2 linked regions of the Homo sapiens genome follow. The protein of the gene in region 2 purifies or fractionates together with the protein of the main gene of each other region. This does not show direct contact. Each region holds a gene or a part of one and is shown on either strand. Other genes may lie near its edges.

Region 1 (3,813 bases), on a different chromosome or scaffold from region 2:
CTAACATCTGAGCAGCATTTAGGCAACGGCACAGTGCTGTCCACTTGCGCTGAGGAAGGAGCAGAGGCTGCCATGATGGAACAGAGCTGCCTCGTTAATCAGGACGAGAAGGGCGGTGCTTCACTCTGCCAGTGAGGTGGTTTAAGAAAACAGCCCTGTTGACTTACTTATTTCTGGCAGCTGCTGTTCAGGGCTGTCATGGGCAGGGGATGGGGTTCAACATTCTATGCATGACCTGGGAGAGGTCATTACAAAAATTAAAACCAGTGACGAGTCCTGCTAATTCATTAGTTTCTGGGATTCACGGTGGGAAATTGTGGCTTTCTTTGCTAGGGTGCCCTCGGGCTGAAGTCACATTTCCAGTGCAGAACAGGCACCTTCTGGGAGCTGGGCTCCATTATGAAGATTCCTTTCACTGGCTCAGCTTTTGGAGGACTCCAATTTCAGAAACGCTGGAAGGAGTGGATGAGTGGGGGCTAAATGCCCTCTCTGGAGTTGGTGTGAGTGTGAATAGGAGAAGCAGATAAACTCCATCCAGAGGACACAGGAAGCCACCTCCCCGCTCCCAGGTACTCTGAAGACAGCCCAAGCCCCTCATTAAGTACCTCTCAGGTTAGAGCTTCTGTCTCCCACGGCAACAATCACTTTGGAGGCTGTAGCCTCCTGGAAGCTGGTCTGGATGGGGTGGAGGTGACGGGCCATGATCCTCTGAGGGACGCTGACCACCACCTAGAGAGGGAGCCAAGGAAGCTTCATGGAGCGCCGCCTGTGTCCCGGTCCATGCTGGGCGTTTCCACAACCTCACCCTGCAGTCTGTGACATAGTGTCACCCGTTTCACAGGTGGCAACACTGAGGCTCAAAGCCTAAACGCCTTGCTAGAATGTGGCAGAGAGGGGGTTTGAGCCCAGTCTGGTCAGACTTCACAGCCCAGTTCTCCCATTGAACAAGCTGCTTCCCCCAGCAGCTGACTGGACGCTGAGCAGCGGGCCTGAATTCATTAATCGATCTGGGTGGGCTGAGGATTTTGGCTGTTCGGACAGCCATGATCACTTCTCTGTAGTACAGCACCACACCCCACCCAGAATCCAGTCTGCCCAGATTTTCCCAGCTGTTCCCCCTGTGCCCATCCTGTACCTGGCCACACCCAAACAGCCCCAGGCTGGAGACCTCCCTGCACTCCCTTGGCTAGGACACCCTCCCATCTTCTCTGCAGAGCCCAGCCTCATCCACCCTTCAGGCCCAAGGCCACTTCCTGCAGCTGAAGGCCCCCCTCCCTCTCTCAGCAGGCACCAGCGCTCCCTGCCTCCAGGAGATCTGATTTCTACCAGTAGGTGAACTTCAGAGCAGGGATGCGATTGAAGCCCCTGCAGCTCCCAGGGATGTGGCCCATGCAGAGCTGTAGGTGACCAGGCATCACTGTCAAACTCACGGTGCCTCCGCTCAGGGCTTACCACCATCCACCTCCAGGGACTGACAGAGGCTGTGTCCCACTCTCTAGCCTGGGACCCCCCAACGCTGGCCCTCCTCTCCCCTTCCTCCCTGTCCACCCTCAGAGAGTGCCCAAGGCTTCCTGGCCCCTCTCCTGCCTGCACTCCTGGAGTGCCCGTGCACTCCCACCCACTCCCAGGGCTTCAGAGGCCACTTCTGGGCTGAGGCCCCCACCCTGTCCAGCCTTCCTCACAGTGCTCCTGCCGCACCCACCCAGGTGTGCCTCCTGCCTCACCTGGGAGAGCTGTGACATCTCTAGCTCCCCGGCCCAGGCTCCTCACCTCCCTGCAGGCCTACCTACCTCTGTGTGCCCCTCTCAGCAAAGGACCAGTAGCAGCCTGGTCATCCCAAGCCCTTCCTCCCCTCCAGCCTCACTTCTGGATGCTCATGGAGCTCTGATGTGCCTCCCTCCCTCCCGTCTCTCCCAAACCTGCCTTTAGATTCTGCCACACCCAGTGATCCCAGCTGAGGGCCTGGCCTCAGTCTCTGGCCAGTTACCCTGTAGCGACTGCTCTCTCGAGCTCCTCCAGGTGCCAGGTAACCTCTGCAAACACAGCCTTGGTCTATAGCACTGTTTAAAAAACTCCACTGAGTGTGGCATAAGCTTCTACCCCTTCACCCTGGAACAGCAGCAGCAGCAGCAGCTAATTTCTGCTGAGCACTGGCTATGAGCTGAGCACCACCCTAGGGGCTTCTGACGTGCTAACTCACTAAATCCTCACAACGCTATCATCCCCATTATACAGGCAAGAAAATCGGGACATAGCGAGACTCAATGATTGCTCAGTCATAGCCTCGCAGTGGCCAAGCTGGGATTTGACCTAGACCGTCTAGCTGTAGATGCCCCACCCTCAACCTGCACCAAACTGCCTGGAATCTGGTGCATTTTCTGATCTGATCACAAAGCCAGACCATGCTTCTCCCACACCCTCTGTTCCAGCCCCCGAGGCTCTGCCCTTGAACCCTACACACCTTTGTCCATGCCACCCCATCCCCTGACCAGAGGCTCTTTCCAGGAGAGCACAGCTGTATTGTCACAGGATGCCTCTGTCTGCAACTGGCTCGCCCAAACTGCAGAGCCGCAGCACTAAATATGCAAACAATTAGGTTAAACTGCTAGGTTCCATAAAGCACATGCTGCCTCTAAAAATGAGATGCATTTGGATCTCAGCCAGACTTGCCCCACTGATTCATTCTCAACTGGAGATGAATGGAAGAGACAGCAGGTTTTGTCGCCTCCAGACTCAAAGGGTGACTTGCACAGGGAGTCTTAGCCTTGCAGGTGACAGGGAAGCACCGGCTCCCAGGAAGTGCCCACTCCGGGGTTGCCAGACCCAAGCCCATGGGAGCTGGAATCCACCCTACAAGGCTGCCTGTCCTCATCACACCCTCTTGAACATGGGGAGACTGAAGCCTGGAAAAAAAAGGGAGCTTGTCCCCATGTCAGAGTCAGCAAGTGGCCAGTCCCAGACTCATGACTCCCAGACCCAACCCCTCAGACGGCTTTTCCCTAAAAGGAAAAGTCTTCATAATCCTCCCAGAAGGTCAGGCCCGCCTCACAGGCCACTGAGCCACATGTGCCTCCGGCTGCTTAGAGCCCACCTCCTTGTAGGTCCTCAGGTGCCCAGCGACCTCATAGTAAACCGTCACGGATCCCACGGCCCGGGCCACAGCCACACCCGTCTTGGGGTCGATGTGGAGGATGCTGTTGGCCGAGGAGCTCCAGGTTCCTGAGAGGCCTGGAGAGGAAGCACAGGTGTCAGCCCCCTTTCCATAGCTGGACACTCCAGTCAAAGCCCAGCTCACCTGGATGACAGGCCAGCTTCCTCGCTGGCTGCCGCTACCCCCATGGGGGCTCACTCAGCAGCCTCAGGAGACAGCCACGCTGCCTGCCCCAGTGCCGGTCATGCTCCTGACTCCAGCCACCTGGAGCCATCAGCTCTCCTACCCTGCTGCACCCGCCCTCTACAGGGCTGTGGCCCCTAGCACCTGCTCTCCCTGACCCACAACTCCCTGCCTGGAATCTCCTGACCATCCTGGCATGAAGCTTTAGCTGACTCCTGCCCAGGAATGGTCTGGTGCTGCTGCCAGGCCCTGCCCTCTGTAGCTCCTTCCCCAAAGCACAGCCCCTCCCCATCCCTTCGTTGCCTTATCAATTCCTTTTTAGCAACAGACAGCAGGTGTGAGGCTCAGAGCTTTCACCACATACACATCTGAGTTAAAAGCCAATCACATTATATAATAAGTACAATTAAAGGACTCAACCATAATCTATTTATGGCAAATTATATTTGTTTTTCCTTAAAGGTAGTATTTCATCTCCT
Region 2 (2,553 bases):
AGGGCCGGGGGCCGGAGCGCGGTGAGTGGGAAGGCTCTGCGGAAGGGAGAAGTCTGTCTTTGCCACAGTCCTGAACTGGCCAAGCACAGTAGAGCTGCTGCCGCCTTTGGAATCAGTCAGTTCTGCTCGCTATGGCTCCCCATGGCTAACTGAAGTAAGGCCACATCCTGGGCCTTTAGGCTGTCACCTGGCAGTGTGACCTCAAATTGTCTTGCCGGCCACACTACTCCGCCCTCAGTGTTTCAGTCACACCCAGTGTTTCCCACCCACTCTTCATTTATTCTGGGGAATCATCCTCTGCATCTTCCTCTGTCAAACCCTATGTCAGTGCCCTCTCCTTCAAAAAGCCATCCCAGATTTCCTCCATTTCCTTCTGCAGGGCCTCCCCACGGCGTTTTCCACCTGCTTCCCTTAGAGTGACTTGGTTTAACGTTCCCATAGACCTGAGAGCTCCTGGAATTGCATCAACTCTGGGGGTGCAGTGCCCAGTACAGTGCCTGCCACAGTCTCTTGTGTTGATTTGAACTGATTTGTGCAGAGAGGCAGAGGAGGATGGAAAGAGGGTAGGGCAAAGCCCTGCCTGTCTATGGCCGTGGAGACAGGGACATTCAGCCTGGGGAAGCTCCATGGGCTAGAAATGGTGAGTGTCAGGCTGCGGTGCTCTAGGGAACCTCCTTGGAAAGAGATGAGTGAGATTGGAAATAAAACTTGTGGCTGCAGTAACAAAAGGAGTGAAAGGAGGCAGAAACACAGGCAGTGGCTGGCGGGCCACCCAGAGGGCCTGGCGGGGGAAGGGGGGGGGCAGTCCCAGCACCCTCCTCCTGAGCCTCCAGCCACATCCTGGAGCACAGGGCCATATTCTAGAATGCAAGACCCACATCCAAATTGGGGGACCCTCCGGAGACACTGCACACGATGGGAGCTTATAACAGGTTTCCTGAATGGAACAGATCCTGACCTACGTGTGGACAAATCCCTCATTTGAGCTGACAGAAGGGTGGAGTTTGTCAAAAAGAGCTTTTCAGAAATATGAAAAAGGAAAGCCCCCAGAGAAAACACAACAGCCCAGAAAGCCAGGCTGGAGTTACCCCAAGGAGAGGACTCTAGGCTCCCCTAAAGGTAACTCCAGCCTGGCTTCCTGGGCACAGGAAGAGCCCCGCCCGCTGTGCCTCAATCTTGTGGAGACACCAGATCCCAGCCAAGGTTGCCCCTACAGATCCTTCTTGTGCTTGTCTCCTTCCTCCCCACTGCCCTTGGCAGGTGCCCCCTGGTCTCTCCCCAGGACATCAATCTAGTCTGAATGCTGGGAGACCCTCTGAGCCGCAGAGGCTGAGCTCCCCTTGGGCCATAGCCCCAGAAGGCATGGCACTCTGGGGTGGTGGTGCCTGCCCTCCCCTGCCTCCCACCACTGAGACTTCCGTTCCTCCTGTTTCAAAGCTGGGCCAGTGGCCAGAGCGGGGAGCCTGTGCCAGGCTCGGGAACATCCCACAACCTACCGGGTAGAGGCCTCAGCCCTCCACGGGCCTTTATTCAGAAACATGAGCCACAGGGGAAGTCTGGTGCTGAGCCCCCTGTGCCACCGAGGCATTAAACATGACAAGAGTGTGGCTCTGAACACTGGCCGGGCCACTGGGCCAGCCCTCTGACTATCACTCAGAGGTGGCCTTGCCTGTCCTCTGTGGAGTGACCATTACACTGTCAATACCTGCCTTCCCCGAATCCCACCCCAAACAGGAAGGAGCCAAGTCATACGGTTTTGGCCCCTGGACCATTCCTCCCTCCTGCAGAGGTGTTTCTAGTGTGGCGCTGGCCCAGGCTTGGAATTGGACAACCTGATTTGAATTGTGGCTCTGCCTCTTATTAGCTGTGTGACCATGGGCCAATTACTTAACATCCCCATGCCTCAGTTTCCTCATCTGTAAAGTGGGGACAACAATGACACCTTGGAGAGCTCTATCACGGGTTACATGGGAATGGTGTGTGGAAAGTGCCTGCTTCCTTGCCATGGTGGATTCCTTCCACCAATTCAGCTCCCTGATGGGAATTTCTCAGCTGTTGAATATTCATAAAACCTGGAACTCCCCTTCCCAAGCCACCCACCTCACTGCCTGGAAGGCTTGCAAAGTTGCCCCCATGCAGAGCTGACCTCTGACTCCACAGTCTGGTCTACCAGCCTTGGGCTGCTGCTGGAACACTGGTTCCCACCACATAGCCAAGGCCCTGGAACACCCTCCCTGGAGGGATGGGAGATAAGGCCAGCAGGCAGAGGCTGACACGCTATCGATATTGACTCCTGAGTCCCCGGGGGTGCCAGGCAGGAATGCCTGAGCAACGTCTGCAGTCAAATAAAGGCTGTGGCACTCCCCTCCTAACCTGAGGCCAGGGCCCAGGCAGCTCTGAGTCGCCACACGCCTCTCTGACTCTCTCCAACCTCCCTCAGCCTCCCAAAGGCCAGAGTCATGGGTATGGAGCTCCGGCCAGGTGCGGGAGCTCCCACTGTCCCTCCGCTGGGTCCCAAGAGATGGACACATGGCCAAGGGGCAGCGGGGGAAG

Evidence for each region.
Region 1: the proteins of SLC6A9 (region 2) and NUP210 purify together in Homo sapiens (affinity purification with mass spectrometry; one large-scale study listed by BioGRID and IntAct). This does not show direct contact.

The regions. Positions count from the first base shown.
Region 1 is NC_000003.12:13,322,704-13,326,516, forward strand, and holds part of NUP210 (nuclear pore membrane glycoprotein 210 precursor), read right to left. Parts: intron 3,229-3,813; coding exon 3,092-3,228; intron 730-3,091; coding exon 606-729; intron 1-605. UniProt on the Homo sapiens protein: Nucleoporin essential for nuclear pore assembly and fusion, nuclear pore spacing, as well as structural integrity.
Region 2 is NC_000001.11:43,998,190-44,000,742, forward strand, and holds part of SLC6A9 (sodium- and chloride-dependent glycine transporter 1), read right to left. Parts: intron 37-2,553; coding exon of another isoform or gene 1-36. UniProt on the Homo sapiens protein: Sodium- and chloride-dependent glycine transporter. Essential for regulating glycine concentrations at inhibitory glycinergic synapses.